2 separate regions of the Homo sapiens genome follow, and region 1 is linked to region 2. The links come from fine-mapping of genetic effects on gene expression. Tissue or cell type: whole blood. Region 2 holds a variant in brackets; the other region holds the start of a gene. All regions are shown on one strand. Distances are between the middles of the regions.

Region 1 (11,844 bases), 86 kb after region 2:
ACTGCGAATTACACGGAATCTTTGACTATGCCGACTAAACAGAAGGCTATTCCTAAGTACCATCCCATATGTGCTAGTTTTTCAAAACCAACAATAAAGCAGTTGGGGAGGTGCCTTGTACACAGAATGACGCCACGAGGCATTTGAGATGAACGTCCAAAGGGACAAAGAAGCCAGACCGCTTCCGAGAACGGGGACAGAATGTCTTCGGGCTTCTGCGCCGGGGGCGGCGCCGGAAGGCTGGGTGAGCTCCACTGGAGACGACACCCCAGGGTGGTTAGGCCCCAGACACGCGCGTGACCTTGGCCGGACCCTGGGAGCGGCTGAGCCAGGGGCGATCCCCGAGCGCCCTCCCCGTCCCCGCGCCGCTTGGACTCCCCGGGGAGCTCGGTCGCGACTGGCGGGCGCGGAGCCCTTCCCCTTCCGGAGCCCAGGAAGGCGGCTCCCCGCGGCGCCGGCCGCGCGCGCGCCCGCCCTTACCTTGACTGGACGCGGCCATTTCGGTGAGCTTGTCTCGCGAGGACACACGTAGAGGATCTGCGCGGTAGGCCGCGGAGTGGCGCGCAGTTGTCGCCACCACTTGGCTTCCGGCACGTGGGGCAGATGTTTCCATTCCCACGGCGGCAGCGGAAGAGGGAGGGCCGGGCGCGCCGCGGCTGCTTGCAGTCTCCGCAAGCGGCTACATCACAGAGCTCAGCGTGCGGTGTCACAGGCCCCGCGGTCCCGCCCAACAGATGCACCGAGATGCGCGTGCGCAGAAAGCGTCCCGGGGGTGAGGCTCCCTCCCTCGCTCTCCCTCTACTCCCGCCCCACTCTCCCCCACTTTCCCCCCTCCACCCACCGCGGCCGTCGGGGCTCGCTCGCTCAGTACCTGGAGGCGAGTTCCTGACGCGACTGCGACTCAATCCTCGCCTGGTGAAGAATATTTTACCTATGACTCACTGAAAATAAAGACGGCTGAGTGACCGTGTTTGTTCATGTAAACATTGAACAAATATTTATCGGCTTCTGCGATGTGTCCTACTCTTTTAGTGGAGGAAGACACATTTTATTTATGTATTTAATTTTTCTTTTGAATTTTACATGCGAGTTATACTTAATAAAACTCACTTCAAAATATACCTTCAACAGAAAATCCAGCAACAGTTTCTATTATGTTAGTTAAAACAGCCAGTCTTTTCCTTTACTTTTAAAAATTATTCATAAATGTAATTAGTGAATGATAATAAACATTGACATCTGATCCACTGCTTTAGGAGTGACACAAATGAAGTTAACTCAGGCTATTTTCTTTATAATCATTGTGCTATTGTTTTCTTTTTCTTTTCAATTATACTGCTTAATATAGGATTTTGTGGCACCATAGGAGTTGAGTAAAAATAAAAGGAATAAAAATATACCTTATCTGGCCGGGCGCGGTGGCTCACGCCTGTAATTTCAGCAGTTTCGGAGGCCGAGGCGGGCGGATCACGCGGTCAGGAGATCGAGGCCATCCTGGCTAACATGGTGAAACCCCGTCTCTACTAAAAATACAAAAAATTAGCCGGGCATGGTGGCGGCCGCCTGTAGTCCCAGCTACTCGGGAGGCTGAGGCAGGAGAATGGCGTGAACCCGGGAGGCGGAGCTTGCAGTGAGCCGAGATCGCGACACTGCACTCCAGCCTGGGCGACAGAGTGAGACTGCGTCTCCAAAAAAAAAAGAAAAAATACGTTATCTATGAAGATTTCCAATTTGATTTCTATTTATCACAAATGGCCACAGTACTCCTTTGTACTTTACCACATACCATATTGTATTCAGTAATTATTTGTGAATATGTAATTGATAATATTGTAGGTTTTAGAGAATCCTTGAAAACATGAAAATTTGGTAATGGGGTCTATTTTGATTATTTATTTATTTATTTATTTATTTTATTTTTGAGACAGAGTCTCGCTCTTGTTGCCCAGGCTGGAGTGCAGTGGCGCGATCTCGGCTCACTGCAAGCTCCACCTCCCGGGTTCAAGCGATTCTCCTGCCTCAGCCTCCCAAGTAGCTGGGACTACAGGCACGTGCCACCATGCCCGGCTAATTTTTTGTATTTTTAGTAGAGGAGGAGTTTCATCTTGTTAGCTAGGATGGTCTAGATCTCCTGACCTCGTGATCTGCCCGCCTCAGCCTCCCAAAGTGCTGGGATTACAGGTGTGAGCCACCGTGCCCGGCCATATTTTGATTTAAAATTTAGCAATAATAGATAAAATTTTCAATCAACTAAGCCCTTGGGCCAGGGAATGCTATTCCTTAAAAAGTGCTTCTATCAATATAGCCTCTGACTCATTACTTTGTTAATTTTTAAATTGTATTTCATTCCTGATTAACATTCCCACCCAGATTATTAATTATACAATCTGTTAACTGTAGAACCTCAAACATGTTGGATTGTACTGTATTTGTCTGGAAGACACATTTTTAAAACATTGTAATCGCTATAAGAGAAGCACTGGGAAAGAAAGGAGCTTCTATGCCTGCAGTGCCTGAGGAGCCCTTTAACAGTGTGCCCCGCCCCTAAGCTACTCATGCAGTCATCCCCATCCCAGTTAGTCAACTTTATTCCAAAAAACTTGGTGTTCCAAATTTTTCCTTCTCAAAGCCCACAGATCCAAAATTCATCAGCAGTTCCCACAAACGTTACCCTCACAATGAATCCAGCCATTTTTCACCCTCTCCAGTGGTACCATCATAGCCCAAGCCGCCACCATTTCTCACCCCCGGTTAACAGGCCACCCTCCTTCTACCCTTATCCTGCTAGAGTTTGTTTTATCTACAGTGATCAGAAAGATCAGCCTAAAAGATAATTCTGATCACCACCCTCCTCTACTCACAACCCGGCCGTGTCTCCCCATTGCCCTCAGTGTAGAAGTCAATGTCCCTTTGCTGAAATGCAACCTTAGTGAAACTTTCCATGACTAACCTCCTTTAAAATTGCAACCTGGTCCACCCTTACTCCCCCTTACCCCACTTCTCTTTTTTGCACAGCACTTATTTTACCTTCTAACATACTGTATAATGTACTCATGTATTGTAATTATTGCTTATCATCCCTCTTTCAGTTGCTTATATTTTTCATCAATGTGTACCCAGTGCCTAGGACAATATCTGTCTAGGACAAATGGGTAGTTATGTGGCTGTAGGCAAGCCATTTAACCTCTCTGTACCTCAGTTACTTTATCTGTATCCACTTTGCGGTGTTGTCATGAGGATTAAATCAGATAGCCTATGTGTAGCACCTGGCAGTGAATTTATCACCCTGTACTGTAACTGTCTACTTTTCTGTCTCCTCCATTGGACTGTCATTCCCAGGGGGTTGGGAACTGGGATTTCTTCATTTCTGAGGCATAGAAGTATAGCATAGTGGTTAGGAGCATGACTTCTGGAGCCAGAGTACATGGGTTTGAATGCTACCACTCACAAGCTGTGTGGCCATGGAGAAGTTGCCTAACCTCTCCGTGCTTCAGTTTCATCACCCATAAAATGAAGGTAAGAATAGTACCTGTATTTAAAAGCACCTAGAACAGTTCCTGGCATATAGTGTCAGCTGTCATCTCTGCATCCTTGTACCTGTCAGAGAGGAGTGTTTATCAAAGGGGCTTCTTGCTGCCTGTTTCCAAACCAGTCGACAATATACCAATTGCTCCCTAACACATTCTTGTTTGTGCAGAACTGAGCTCAATGATAACATTTTTATAGCAACCCTGATCAAGTTTCTTCTCATAATCTCTTACACTTTGAGGCCCCTGCAGGGGCCCTCACTCTCCCTAATAAACATTAACCTGAGTAGGGTGTTTGAGCTCACCATGGCTACATTCTGATGTAAAGAGATATATCCTATACCTGGGCCAAATGTAAACAGCCTGGAAAAGTGTTAGGTTAAAAACAAAACAAAATAAATAAATGAATAAATGCCAGGTGGTTATGAGTGCTATTGAGAAAAATGAAGCCAAGAGGGATATCAGTGATGCAGGTGGGGGTAAAGAGCTTACAACATAAATGTGGTGTTCCATATTTAAACCTCATTCAACAGGGAAGATTGGAGCTGAAATGTGAAGGAGTTGTGGGAGTGGAACTACGTGGAAATCTGGGGGAAAGGTGTTTTGGGTAAAAGAAATAGCAAGTGTTGAGGTCCAGGGGCATGAGTGTGCTTGATATTTTAGGGAAGAGTAAGGAGACCAGTATAACCAGAGTGAGATGAGACTACAGAGGTCAGGAGAAAGGGCATGCAGACCATGTGGGATGCTCTAGGACCTAGGCCATGGTAAAGATGTAGGGTTTTACCCTGATGGAGGTCAGAAGCCATTGGAGGATTCTGAGAAGAGGAGTGACAGGACTCGCTTTATAGTTTTAAATTATAACTATAAATTATAGTTTTTAAAACAATAGTTGCCTAACCTCATGTTATATGTAAAACTACAGTTTTAAAAACTATAAATTCCTCATACTGGCAGCAGTGTGAGGGGCAAGGGCAAAAGCAGAGAGACTAACAGGTTGCTGGTTACTCTTGCTAGTGCAAGTGAATTCTAGAATCTTCGACAACATCCAGAACTTCTCTTGCTGCTGCCACTCAGGAAGAGGGTTGGAGTAGGCTAGGAATAGGAGCACAAATTAAAGCTCCTGTTCACTTTGACTTCTCCATCCCTCTCCTCCTTTCCTTAAAGGTTCTGATTAAAGCAGACTTATGCCCCTACTGCTCTCAGAAGTGAATGGGTTAAGTTTAGCAGCCTCCCTTTTGCTACTTCAGTTCTTCCTGTGGCTGCTTCCCACTGATAAAAAGGAAGCAATCCTATCGGTTACTGCTTAGTGCTGAGCACATCCAGTGGGTAAAGTTCCTTAAAATGCTCTGCAAAGAAATTGGGACTTTTCATTAAATCAGAAATTTTACTTTTTTCCCCTCCTGGGAGCTAAAGATATTTTAGAGAAGAATTAACCTTTTGCTTCTCCAGTTGAACATTTGTAGCAATAAGTCATGCAAATAGAGCTCTCCACCTGCTTCTTTCTGTGCCTTTTGCGATTCTGCTTTAGTGCCACCAGAAGATACTACCTGGGTGCAGTGGAACTGTCATGGGACTATATGCAAAGTGATCTCGGTGAGCTGCCTGTGGACGCAAGGTAAAGGCATGTCCTGTAGGGTCTGATCGGGGCCAGGATTGTGGGGATGTAAGTCTGCTTGGAGGAAGGTGCAGACATCGGGTTAGGATGGTTGTGATGCTACCTGGGCCCCAAAGAAACATTTCTGGGTAAGGTGTGCACACATCTGTGTTATTAGCAGAAATGCTAACTGCCAATTCTTTTCATAGGTCTGACCTATTTGTTGATATTTTGTTCTGTTTTGTCCATTGCTTCTCTTCGTCATATGCTGCTCCTCCAGAATCTAGAGACTGGAGTAGAGGGAGGGTGAAGGGACAAAGACAAAACTTCCCTCTGCCTGCCCAAGCTTCCATAGAGAGAATCAAGGCAATGAAATCCAATCAATATCACACACAAGTTTCATGTCTGGTTCTCTTGTGTGTACATGCAATGTGTGTTTTTATAATATCTTTTCCTACTTTGGGTGTAAGGATAATATGAGCCTTGAGTTCAGAAGCTTTTCGTGTTTTGGGGGTTCTGGTGCATTTAGGCAGAGTATTAAATAACTTTATCAATATTGTCTATGGTCATCAGTTGATTCAGATTTTTCTACCTCTTCTTCAGTAAATATTGGTATATTTTGGTCTATACTTTCATAGAAAGCAATCTACTGTCCCTAGATTTGATAATGTATTGGTATCAAGTTATGTAAGAGTCTCCTGTGATTTTGTTAAACTGTTCTGTGTCTGTAGTTATATTTTCTTTTTCATTCCTTATGTTGTATATGTTCTCTTCCTCTCTTTTAAAAATAATATTTCCAGGAGTTTTCTTGATTTTATTGGTCTTGTCAAGAATTTTCTTTTGGTTTGATTTATCAATCTCTTTTTTCTTTCTGTTGCATCAGTTTCTGCTTCTACTTTCATTGATTTATTCCTTCCTTCTAATTTCCTTTGGTTCATTTTGTTGTTAGATTTTTGCTTCTTGAGTTGAATGCTGAAATCATTTATTTTATTTTTTTGTCTTCTTTAAATGTGTATTATAAAGATTTAAATATAATACATAGATTGTGGCTGTGTAAACATTAAATGTGGTCATGTTGTACATACTTTATATTCTTTTTGGTTCTTTCTGTTTGGCTCCCCACCCTCTTTCCACATCAGTCCCCTTCTCCCCCACCTCAGCTAGGTAACCCCAGTATGATAATATATATTCACATACACATACACACACACAAAGGTTTTCTTGGACATTATTTGTTTTATAAAATTGGGACATTATACACACATTTCTCACTCATTAACACGTACTAGAACTCTAAGTCAATTGGTATAGCTTTAATTCATTATTTTTATTGGCTATATAAGATTCTATGGTATGGCTGTATCACAATTTAGTCAATATGTTCACTTTATTCCAGTTTTTGGCTACTATATCCTATATCATTACATACTGGTGCTTTTACTTCTGTTGAACAAACTTGCAAGAGGAATATTAATGGAACGAAGGGAATGTTTCCTTCTAAGTTTTAATTTCCAAAGAGGTCAGAACTTTTCAAACATTTCTACCATCGAAGTATGAAAATGGCCTTCTCTCTGCATTCACATAGCGATAAGTTTTATCCTGTTTTTAAAATTTGCCAATTTTACAGGTGTAGAGTGATATTGCATCATTACTTTCATTGTGTTATTTTTATTTCTAATAAGTTGAGCATCTTTTTAAATGCTTGTTGGCTATTGGATTTATTTGGGGGATTTAATTAGTCATATGATTTGCCCATTATTCTTTGGACTCTTTCATTTAAAAAAATTATGAGAACCCTTTTATTATTACAAATATTAACTCTTTGTCATGTATATTGCAGTTTTCCCCAAGATCTATTGTTTGTCTGTTGACTTTCTTATAACTTTTACCAAAACAGTTTTTAATTTTTATAATCAGAGATATCTTTTCTTTCATATCTTCAGAGTCGGCAAGGTTGGTTAAAAATGTTTCCCACACCTCAAGATTGTACGTGTAATCTCCCAGATTTTCTTGCAAGATGTTTACTGTTTCGCTTTTTATATGCATTGCTTCAATTATCTGCTAATTACTTTTGTCATATGGCATGAGAGAGGGATTTGTCTAGTTTTATTTCCATCCAGATCAATAGCCTATTGTGATGGCACCTTTTGCCACTGATTTGAATCAACACATTCATCATATAAAGTTCTCATATATATTAGCATATATTTCTGGATTCATTAGGCTGTTTCACTAATCTACTATTATCTTGCTATGCCAGTACCATAGTGATTTGATTACAGTGAGCCTATGATATCTTCTGATATCTGGTGGGTGAAAGCAATCCTCACTATTCTTTTTGTACCTTTCTTAGCTATTCTTAGACACTTTATTCTTCCACATAAAACTGTTAAGATATTTTTCAAATTAAAAAGATCCAAGCCCTGTTGTGATTCTAACTGCAATTTCATTAAACTCAGACCTTAATTTTATTAATGTAATAAATTTAAATATTTTTCTTATTACATTTATCTCTGTGTATTTTATAAGTGTGATGCTATTGTTAATAAGATAGTTTTCTCCTATTTCCATTTATGAGTGCTTAGTACCAAATAGAGATAAGCTATTGGTTTGTGTATTTTCAGCTTTTTCTTTTGAGCCTGGGTCTCATTTTGTCACCCAGGCTGGAGTGCAGTGGGGTGATCTCACCTTACTGCAGCCTCAACCTCCTGGATTCAAGCAATTCTCCTGTATATCAGCCCCCCAAGTAGCTGGGACTACAGGAGCAGGCCACCATGCCCGGAAAATTTTTGTATATTTTTTAGAGATGGGTTTTTGCCATGTTACCCAGGCTGGTTTTCAACTCCTGAGCTCAAGCATTCCCCCCACCTCAGCCTCCCAAAGAGCTAGGATTACAGGTTTGAGCCACCGCACCCAGCCATTGTATATTCATCTTAAATCTAGCTACCTTACCAAATTTGCCTATTAATTCTAGTAATTTTACCCTAAAGTCTCTGTGAGTATTGAATCATATCATAAGTTAAATGAGACAGATTTTAGCTCATTTCCAATATTTATAGCCAGTTATTTCATTTTCTTATCTTATTGAATTTATTAGAAAACAAGAGCAAATGTTAAATAATAACAATGAAAGTGAACATTCCTTCTACTCTATGATTTTACTTGAAATAATTTTTGTATTTTGCTATTTAGAGTAACATTTGCTGTTTTGGTTTTTGTAAATGGTGTTTATTCTATTCTCATTTGCCACAAAATGTTTATCATAAATAAGTTTTCAGCAGCTGGTATCATCTGAATTGTCTTCTTTGATATGCTGATGAACAAATTATGTTCATAGATGTCCTGACACTAAATACCCTTACATTCTTGGAGTAAAATCTACTATTCATGGAATTTGATCATTAGTGGGTTCTATGTACTATTTCTTTAGACTATTCTTAGTAGATTTTCACTACTCAACCTACTAATAATAATAAACAAAGTTTTGTTGGCTTTATCAAATGAATTGATGAGTACTCCATCTTTTTCTATTGCTTAGAATAGCTTAAGTAACATTTGAATTATCCATTGTCTAAAAGTTAGGTGAGACTCACTTATGAATCCATTTGGTCCTAGTGGCATTTGCAATATCTTTAATCACCCCTCCAGGCTCTTCTATGATAATCAGTCAATTCAAGTTTCAACTTCCAATAATTATATACCTTTCTAGGAAGTAACTTTATTTATTTTTTCAATTTTGTTGCCACAGTGTTGCATGTAGCACTCACTCATGATTCTTTTACTCCACATTATCTGTAGTTATGTGCCCTTTCTTATTCCTAAATTCCTCTATCTTTGCTATTTATCTTTTTTTCCTTGAATAAGCTTGCCAATGACTTGTCTATTTTGTTGCTGGTGGTGCTCTTTTCAAAGAATGGGCTTTTGGATTTTTTTTTTTTCTAGTTGGTATAAAGCATTTTTATTTTCACTGAGCAGAAAAAGAAGCTATTGATTCATTAACTGTGCTGCTTTATTGGCATGTAGCTATGCACTGTTCACACATTAATATATAAAACTCGTCAGTCTGTTTTATTTTGTCTGATGGGAAAACATGAACAGTGAGATTTCTTATGCAAAAAGTGAACAGTTCAACTATGCTAGCTCCATATACCTTTATTAACATTCCAGAGACTTATCCTCTCAACATGATCTGATTTCTGTAGGATAACTTTTCAGGAAAAGTATTTTCTGATCAGTGAAGCTTGGAGATATAAATAAGCAATCGGCCAGGTATGGTGGTTCATGCCTGTAATCCCAGCACTTTGGGAGGCCGAGGCAGGCAGATCACCTGAGGTCAGGAGTTTGACACCAGCCTAGCCAACATGGCAAAACTCCGTGTCTACCAAAAAAAAAAAAAAAATTAGCTGGGCATGGTGGTGCTCACCTGTAATCCCAGCTACTGAGGAGGCTGAGGCAGGAGAATTGCTTGAACCTAGGAGGCGGAGGTGGCAGTGAGCTAAGATTGTGCTCAGCCTAGGTGACAGAGTGAGACTCCATTTCAAAAAATAAAAAAATAAAAAAAAGCAGTATCTCTCATATTCATTAACTGGACCCTGACTTTCTTAAAGCTCACCCCAAAGCTGAAGTCCATGAAGGCACTAGTTCTCAAACTTCAGTGTGCATAAGAATCACTCGGGAAGCTTATTAAAATTTACATTCCTAGGCCCCATCCTCAGCAAACTATTTAGTCCCCAGGTAATTCTATCCCACCCCACCCCAGCTTTATTGTGGTATAATTGACAAATAAAAGTTGTATATATTTAAGGTGTACAAGATAATGTTTTGATGTAAGTATACATTGTAAAATGGTATAGCATGAAGGGTTTTCTTTTCATTTTTTTCAGAATAGTTTGTAATATCTTCTTTGATTTCATCTTTGATAATCTAGACGTATGATTTTAATTGCTTTTTAAATTTGTTTATCAAGTTAGTTTGTAGTATTTGGGTCAACATTGAATATCCTGTTAATTTCCTATTGCTGTGTAACAAACTACATCAAATGTATCAGCTTATGACAGACCCATTTACTGTCTCACAGTTTCTGTGAGTTAGAAGTCCAGGTGGACTCAGCTGGATACTCTGTGCAGGGTCATACAAGGCCAACACCAAGGTTTTAATAGGGCTGCACTCCTTAGTGAAAGCTCTTGGGGAGAATCTGCTTACAGGCTCATTTGGAATGTTAGCAAATTCAGTTCCTTCTCTCACTTTCCATGTAGTGCCCTCTACCAGCAATGGTGCATCAACACTCTCTCATGCTTGGAATTGCTCTGACTTCAATTTTCCGTGCATATCTCTGGCCTTTTTTGCCTCTCTCTTTTACTTTTAAGGACTCATGTGATTACATTGGGCCGACCTGGGTAATTCAGAATACTCTCCCCATCTCAAGGTCAGCTAATCAGCCCCTTAATTCCATCTGCAAAGTTTAATTTGCCACATAATATATTTTTGGACATGACACCAAGGAGCAAAGGTGATGTGGGCCAAATTTTTACCTGCCACAGGTATAGTTTACATACAATGAAGCTCATCAATTTTAAATATGCAGTTTGATGAGTTTTGACAAATGCATACACTTGCATAACCACCACCCTAATCAACATGCATTTACATCAACCCTCCTGCAACTTTTTAATGAGTCTCTCCCACTGACCTGGCCTCAGCCAATAAACTGCTATCTGGAAGTTACAGATTTGTTTTCACATGTTCTAGAATTTTACATCAGTGGAATCATACGGTATGTATTCTTCTATGGCTTTTTTTCTTCAGCATCATGATTTGGAAATTCATGCAGGTTGTTGTATAAAGTATTTCTATCCTTTTTATTGCTGATTACTGCTCCATTATGGGATTATATCATAATTTTGGATTATTTCCAGTTAGGAGCAAATACAAATAAACCTGCTATGAACAGTGCTCCACATGTTTTGTGTGAACATCTATTTTCATTTATCTTAGTTAAATATCTAGGAGTGGAATTGCTGGATCATATGGTAAGTGCATGTTTAAGAGAAACTGCCAGACAGATTTCTTGAACGTACCATTCTATACTCCCACCAGCAATGCATGAGAGTTCCAGTTGCAATATATCCTGGACAACATTTGATGTTGCCAGTACTTAATGACTGCACAGTGGTATCTCACTATACTTTTTTTTTTTTTTGAGATGGAATCTCATCCCATCACACAGGCTGGAGTGCAGTGGCGCAATCTCAGCTCAACATCTGCCTCCTAGGCTCAAGCAATTCTCATGCCTCAGCCTCCTGAGTAGCTAGGACTATGGTCACACGCCACCGTGCCCAGCTAATTTTTGTATTTTTGGTAGAGACGGGGTTTTGCCATGTTGGCCAGGCTGGTCTCAAACTCCTGGCCTCAAGTGATCCACCCGCCTCGGCCTCCCAAAATGTTGGGATTACGGCTTGAGCCACTGCACCTGGTTATACTTTTAATTTGCGTGTCTCTGATGACTAAAGATGTTGAGCATCTTTGCATGTGCTAATTAGCCATTCCTATATCTTCTTGGAAGTGTCTATTCAAATCATTGGTCCTTTGTTTTTAAACGTAGTTTCAACTTTTATTTTAGACTGAGGAGGTACATGTGCAGGTTTGTTACATGAGTATGTTGCATGGTGCTGAAGTTTGGGTTACGAATGAATGATCCTGTCACTGAAGTAGTGAACATAGTAC
Region 2 (8,000 bases):
ATATATTGTTATAATTGTTCTATTTTACTATTGTTGTTGTTAATCTCATACTGTGCCTAATTTATAAACTAAACTTTATCACAGGTGTGCGTGTATAAGAAAACATGGTGTAATAGGGGTCAGTACTATCTGTGGTTTCAGGCCTCCACTGGGGTTCTTGGAACATATTCCCCAAAGATAAGGGGAGACTGCTTTTTGTAATTTGCCACTATTTTTTCTGATTCTGTAGGTTATTTTCACCTTCTTGATAATGTGCTGTGATGCACAAAAGTTTTTAATTTTTATCAAATCCAATTTATCTGTTTTTCCTTTCTCCCTTGTGCATTTGATGTCATATTTAAGAAATTAGTGCCAAATTGAAGGTCATGAAGATGTACCCCTATGTTTTCTTCTAAAGTTGTATTGTTTTAGCTCTTCTATTTAGATCTTTGATCCATTTTAATTTTTGTATATTGGGTGAAGATAGTGGTCCAGCATTATTCTTTTTGCATGTGGATATCCAGCTGTCCCAGCACCATTTGTTGAATTGCCTCTTATTTCCCTGTTGAATTATCATGGCACAGTTGTTGAAGATCAATTGACCAGAAATGTACAGGTTGACTTATGGACTCACAATTCTATTCCACTGATTTATATGTCTATCCTTTGCTACCTTTTGTGGTTTTTCTACAGTTCTCTGAAACTCTGTCCCTTTTTTCCCAGTCTTTTCTGTCTGTTATCCAGCTTGGATAATTCTATTAATCTATCTTCAAGTTTACTGACTCTTTCCTCTGGCATTTCCACTGCATTCTCACTTTTAATCTAGAGTTTAAAATTTTTGGTTGTTATATTTTTCAGTTGTAAAATTTACATTTGCTTCTTTTTATCTTCTATTTCTTATATGATACTTTTTCTTTTTAAATATTTGTTGCAACATTTTTGTGACTGATAGCTTGAGCATTTTCATAATGGCAGCTTTTAAAGTCTTGTCAGATATTTCCAACATAAGTGTCATCTTGCCTTTTGTATCTGTTGATTATCTTCTCCCATACAAGATGAGATTTCTGTGGTTCTTAATATGTTAAATAACTTTGGTTTATGTCCTGGTTATTTTGGATATTAAGTTATGAGACTTTGGATCTTGTTTATATCCCCACTTCTGTGGTATTTTGAGTTTTGGGGCCCTTCTCCAATCTGCCTGTTATTTACATTCCAGAGTTCACAAATAGCTAGGCTTGGCATTCTTTCCAGAGTATATAGTTGAGTTCAGTGAGATATAGGGGCAGCATGTGTTGATTTCATCTTATGAAATATTTCTAAATAACACCTACATCAAAGTAAATCACAAGGGTAATAATATCACAAGGGAAATACTTTGAACTGAAGGATAGTAAATAAAAATTATGGATGTACCCAAAGCAGTGCTTAAAGGGACATTTATGGCTCTTTTGAAAAGACTGATATCATTAATAAACCCCCACCAAGACTGATCAAGGTAAAAACAGAGAACACAAAAATTACTAATGTAAGGAATGAAAAAAGAGAAATCACTTCGGATCCTACAAACTTTAAAAGAATAATAAGAAGATATTGTGAACAATGTAAACTAAAGTTCTAGGATAAATTCCTAGAAAAGCACAACTTGCCAAAACTAAAACGATACAGAAAATCAGAATAATCCTACATATTTTAAAGAAACTGAACCTATAATTTAAAACTTTACACAAAGAAAACTCCACACTGACATTGCTAATCTGTTACATTCTATCAAACATTTAAAGAAAAAACCCAAACTTACACAAACCATTTCAGAAAATCGAGATATGGGAACATTTTCTACTTTGTACTATGCAGCCAGCAAAACCATGATATCAAAATCTAGCAAAGGTGTTTAAAGAAAAGAAAATTATGGATCAATCTTATTTATGAAAAAGATATATAATTCCTAAAAAGATTAGCCTAGTGAATACACTAAAGAGATAATATACAGTGACTAAGGAATGCAAAGCTGGGTTAAGATTCAGAAATCAGTTCATGCGACTTACCACATTAAGGCAAATAATCATATGATTATCTTAATAAATGCAGAAGGAGCATTTGATAAAATTCAACATTCAATCATAAAAAAGAGGCTTAGAATACTAGAAATACAAGGGAACTTCCTTAATATGATAGAGGCTAACTACAGAAAAGCTAAATTAAACACCAGAGATAATTGGGAAATTTTAAAGCATTCTCTTTTACATTTTATTCATAAATTTTACTGGAAGACTGAGACAGTATAATAAGGCATGAAAGAGAAATAAAAAGGTGTAAAGATTGGAAAGGGTGAAATTAAATTGCCCTTGTTTATGGAAGACATGACTGTTTACATAGAAAATCCCAAGGAAATAAAATCTGCAGATAAATCATTAGGATTAATAAGTACATTTATATCCATAAGGCTGCTGGATATAAAGCCAATATACATATATCAATTTGCTATCTAAATAACCGGTACCAACTGGAAAATTATGAAAAGATACCAATTACAATAACATAAAACACCAAATTCCCAAGAATAATTTAAATGAAAGATGTGTGCAATCTTTTCAGATGTTTCACAGAAAAATACAAAAGATAGAGAAATTAAAATCTAAATAAATGGAGGGATACATCAAATTGATGAATGGATTCAATTCTATCCCAGTCAAATTTCAGCTGACATGTTTCAGCAAGTTTTCTTGTGGAAATCAACAAACCGATTTTAAAATTTATATGGGGCTACAAAGGGCGAAGAATAGCCAAGACAGTCTTGAAGAATAACAACAAAGGGGAGAACTAATGTTACCGCATATCATCAAGACTTATTATAAAGCTACAGCAACTAAGTGTGTTACTGACACAAGGATAGACACATAGACAAAACAGAATTCGCCTAGAGTCCAGAAACATAATCATATATATAGGGACGACTGATTTAAGGCAAAGTGGCAAGGCAGCAATAAATGGTGCCAGGTCAATTGGATACACACGTGGGAAAAAGGGAATGTCAACTCACATCCCACATCATATCCTAAAGTTAACACTAAGTAGATTGTAGATTTAAGCACGAATGGTGAAATAATAAAGCATCTCTTCCAGATAGGGAAAGATGTCTTAAATAGTGTAGGACACTAAAAAGCACTAGATCGAAAAGATAAAAAGATAATTTGGACTATTATATTAAATAAACAACTTAGGCTCATCAAATGATACCATTAAGATAGTGAAAACCAGGTCAGGGTGAGAGAGTAGATACTTGGAATAGGTATAGCTGACAGCTTGTATCCAGAACATACTGGAATTCTTTTGAAGTACTAAGAAAGTTAAAGAAAAATGAATATGACTTATACATGAGGGGATATCCAAAAAGCCTATAAACATTTGAAAAGGTGTTCAACCTAATTAGTCACTGGGGAAATCCAAATTAAAACCACAATAAGATACTACTGCACACTCACCAGAACTGCAAAAAATGAAAAAGTCAGAAAATACTAATTGTCAGTGAAGCTGTTAAGCTGTGAAAACCTTCATACACTGTTGGCAAGGATGTGAATTTGGAAACTATTCTACTAAAGTGATAACCCAGCAATTCCACTTCTGTGTACATACTGAAAAGATATGCATTCACATGGGCAAAAAGAGGCTTATGTAAGGATTATTTTCATAGCAGCTTTATTCATAAGAGCCCCAAATTGGAAACAACCCAAATGCCTAACAATAGAACATATAAGTAAATTGTGGTAATTTCCAACAATGAAATATTACACAGCAATAAAAAAGAACTACCATAACAGAGTGAAAGAAGCCATACACAAAGTTGTACTTACCGTATTTTCCCATTTATATAAAATTCAAAAACAGACAAAATTAATCTGTGTTGTTAGAGATTAGGATAATGGTTACCTTTGGGAAAAAAACAAGGGCATAACAATTGAGAGGAGTCACAAAGGAGGCTTCTGGAGGGCTGGTAAGGTTCTATTTCTTGATATGTAGTACAGTTTCACAGGCGTTCACCTTGTAAAAATTCATGGAGCTGATCTGGGTTGTGGTTGCATAGGTGTTTTCATTTTGTGAAAATTGATTGAGCTGGACACTTGTAATTTGTGTACTTTTCTGTATGTTACACTTCAATTGAAAAGCTAAGACCAACCAACCAAACTAAGTTTATGACAAAGAAGCTCTAGAGTATGCTAGAGCTCACAGGTCAGAATGTATGCATTAAAATAGTAGTTTTGAAATCTACAGCTGAAGGGACACTAAACAAATATTTACTGAACACCATGGGAACAGTAATAAAAAAGCATACCTTCTTTCAAGGATCTTACAATGTTAGTGGAAAAACAAAATATTAAAATATAATGTTATAAGTATTACAAAAAGGAAGTATATGATTTTATTAAGTTTCCAGGAGGAATGCTTAACTGGGATGGTATTGGGGGTTGAGAATTATCAGAGAAGGATTCCTAAATTTGATCTTCATCTTCAAAAATGACTAGACATTGGCCAGGTGGTATAAGGAAAAAGGAAACTGTAGGCAGAGTGAGCATATGACAGAGAGAGAACATGGCTGGAGAAATAAGCAAACCATGAAGGGCTGCAGGTTTGGGGCTTTATTCTGAGGGCATTAGGGAGCAGGATCATTTTAGAATAGCTACACCATGATACCAAATTGAAAGGAAGTAAAATGGGTGAGTGCTAAAATTAAAGAACTTTTAAAAAAA[A/T]AAATAAATAAAAATACTACTTAGCATCTATGGGATATATTTAAAGCAAAGATCAGTGGAAAATTCACAGCCTTAAGCATTTATATCAATAATAATGAAAGACAAAAAATATACTCATTAAATTCCAAACTCCAAATGCTAAGATAAGCACAACAAAATGACCAAAATGAAACATAAGGAAGGAAATAATAAACATAAAAGAAAAAGTAGTAAGGTTGGGAATAGAAAAAAAATAACTAAATAAAAATCAGTGTTTCAAGGAAAAATAACAAAATTGACACACCACTGGCTAACATAACCAAGGGAAAAAAGAAATAGCACAAATATACAAAATATGAAATGACAAGGGGGAGATAACTATTGAAATACAAGAGATTTAAAATATGACAGACTATCTGGCAGAGAGATCTCTGTGTAAATAAATTTGCAAACCATAAAAAATGAATAATTTCTTAGGAAACTGTACCAAAATTGACCCCATTACAGAAAGAAAGCATAAACAGATAAATTCCCAGAGGAGAAACACAAAAAGGCCTAGTTGATTTCATAGAGGAATTGTCAAAGAACTGATTGTCTCACTGCTACTTACATTTCTGTCACAGCCTAGACAGTGAAAGAAAACTCCAAACAATTCTTCTGAAGCAAGTGTAATATATATACCTAAACCTGATAAAGACAGTACAAAAAAAGAATATTTCTGATAGCACTTATGATTTTTCCTGAATACAGAATCTTTCTTAATGAAGAAATGCTACAGGAATTTCCATAAGGATCAGAAACAAAACAAGATCATCTACTATTTCCACTACTATTTAATGTTCTAAAGAAGATATTAGGCAATGCAGTTATATTTAAGGAATCAATTAGAGGTTTAGGAATTGGGAAATAAGTAAAAGTATTTGCAGATGGAGTGTGATACTTATCTGGAAAGCTCTAGAGAAATAAAGGTATAATTAACTCAAAGAACAAAAGAATTCAGGAAGATAAAAATTTACATACAGAAATAGTAGCCTTCAAATATACAAGCAAAAAACAGAGGATGTAATAGAAAAAAAACATTAACAAAGCAAAAAAGAAGTTAAATGCTTAAGAATAAATTTCAGTATGACATATACAAAACCTATATGAGAAAAACAACACTCCCGAAAGACACAAAAGTAGACTACAGCAAGTGGAAAGACAGCCAGTGCTCTTGGATAGGATGATGCAACATCACAGATTAATTTATAAATTTAACACAATCTCAATAGAAATATCAAAAAGTTTTTATCTGGAGCTAGACAAGTTGATAGTAAGGTTCACATGAAAAACCAAACATGTAAGAATAGTCAGGGTCTTGGATGGGCGTGGTGGCTCAAGCCTGGGCTCACACCTGTAATCCCAGCACTTTGGGAGGTTGGGAGTTCGAGACCAGCTTGGGCAACATGGTGAAACCCTGTCTCCACTAAAAATACAAAAATTAGCCAGGTGTGATGGCACGTGCCTGTAATCCCTGCTACTCAGGAGTCTGAGACAGGAGAACAGCTTGATCCCGGGAGGCAGAGGCTGCTGTGAGCCAAGATCGCACCACTGCACTCCAGCCTGGACAACTGGGCGAGACTCCGTCTCAAAACAAAACAAAACAAAAAGAATAGTCAGGGAAACACTGAGAAAAGAAAAGCTACAATGGAGACTAGCCCTATGGATAATAAAACATACAATAAAGCCACCATAATTTATGTGATGGTAACTAAATGGACAGACAGAATAAAAAGAAAGAGATCCAAGTGAATAGGGAGCTTTCATATATGGTAAAAGGTGGCATGTAAAATTGCTGACATGAAGATAAGCTTTTTTTTAATTATTATTTTCCCTCACTCTGTCGCCCAGGCTGGAGGGCAGTGGCACAATCTCGGCTCACTGCAACCTCCGCCTCCCGGGTTCAAGCAATTCTCCTGCCTCAGCCTCCCGAGTAGCTGGGATTACAGGCATGCGCCACCACACTTGGCTAATTTTTGTATTTTTAGTAGAGATGGGGTTTCACCATGTTGGGCAGGCTGTTCTCGAACTCCTGACCTCAAGTGATCCACGCGCCTCGGCCTCCCAAAGTGCTGGGATTACAGACATGAGCCACTGTGCCCACCTAACACAAACTTTTTAAACAATGGTTTTGTAACAGGTAGATTGCCATTTAGAAAGAGATAAAATTAGATTCATATCTTAGTCTATACAAAATTAACTCTATATAGTTCTGACTTTTGACTTTTTGAACCATGTTGATGTTTCATATACTCTAAAAGGGAAAAAAGTATGAGTTAAAAAAAATCCTAAAATGGAAAACAAGCAAACAAGAAAAAGCTGTCTTTCAAATAAATCATATAACCACACTGAAGTGGTCAGGGGGAAAATAGACTGAACCCAGCTAAGTATTTTGAGTATACACTCTTAGGCATATGTCCAAACTCATCAAAATGTGTACATTAAATATGTGCAATTCTGCATGTTAATTATACCTCAATAAAGCTTAATAAAAAGAACTGTGAATATGAAAAAGGAGAATGCTAGGATGAACCTTAAAGTATGGAAATAGAATTGGAGTTATCAGGTTGAACTCAGAGGTAAACTGGAGAAAGTTTCCCAGCTGAAGCACAAGGAGAACCCCCAGGTAGGGCTTGGCAGATGCCGAGTTGAGAAAATGGAGCTGAGACTCTGGGAAGGCCAAGATAGCTTGTGTTTGCAAAGTAAAGTACCGTAGAGGAAAGAGCTGCATAGGAAGAGAAACAACATGTCCAGACCCTCCAGTGAACTCCAAAGTATGCACAGGGGCAGGAATAGCATCTATTTTCAACAGTCCGAATGGAAAATCTCATAATATTGGAAGCATCAGAGTATTAAAAAGGGTCTTGCCTCAGTAGTGGGGAAAAAATGAACCTTATATTAAACACTGCTTTGTTTCTGCCTAACAAAGCTTAAAAGCAAGATCCAAAGGGATAGGAATGTTTCCTAATAATTTTAACAGTATCTTGAAACAAAACTCAAGAATATTTTTAGGAATACAAATATATCTAGTACCCAATAAGGTAAAATTCACAGTGTCTGCATCCAATCAAAAATTATCAGGCATGAAAAGCAGCAGAAGAGTCCAACCTATAAGGAGAGGAAATGAATTGGAATTGGCCCAGAATGATGCTGATTTAGTGACAAAATTGGAGGACAAAAACATTAAAATGAATATTATAACTATTTTGTATGTTCAAGAAGCTAGAAGATTAAACATGTTAAGTATAGAAAAGAAAA

Evidence for each region. PIP is the estimated chance that this variant, and not a neighbour inherited with it, causes the effect.
Region 1: F8 starts here. The variant in region 2 is fine-mapped to the expression of F8 in whole blood (TOPMed, PIP above 0.99).

Annotation. Positions count from the first base shown.
Region 1 is chrX:155,015,708-155,027,551 of GRCh38, reverse strand. F8 (coagulation factor VIII) reads left to right here and starts at 4,829. Exons shown (of 26, transcript NM_000132.4): 1 at 4,829-5,142. The coding sequence starts at 5,000. It overlaps FUNDC2 (FUN14 domain containing 2), which reads right to left and starts at 708. Exons shown (of 5, transcript NM_023934.4): 1 at 481-708. The coding sequence starts at 613. RefSeq lists an enhancer at 1-30 and silencers at 208-527, 798-887.
Region 2 is chrX:155,104,049-155,112,048 of GRCh38, reverse strand. All of the region lies in intron 7 of BRCC3 (BRCA1/BRCA2-containing complex subunit 3), which reads right to left. Among named protein-coding and RNA genes, the nearest start is that of BRCC3, 37 kb to the right of the region's middle. The variant A/T (reference allele first, on the strand shown) is at 4,725.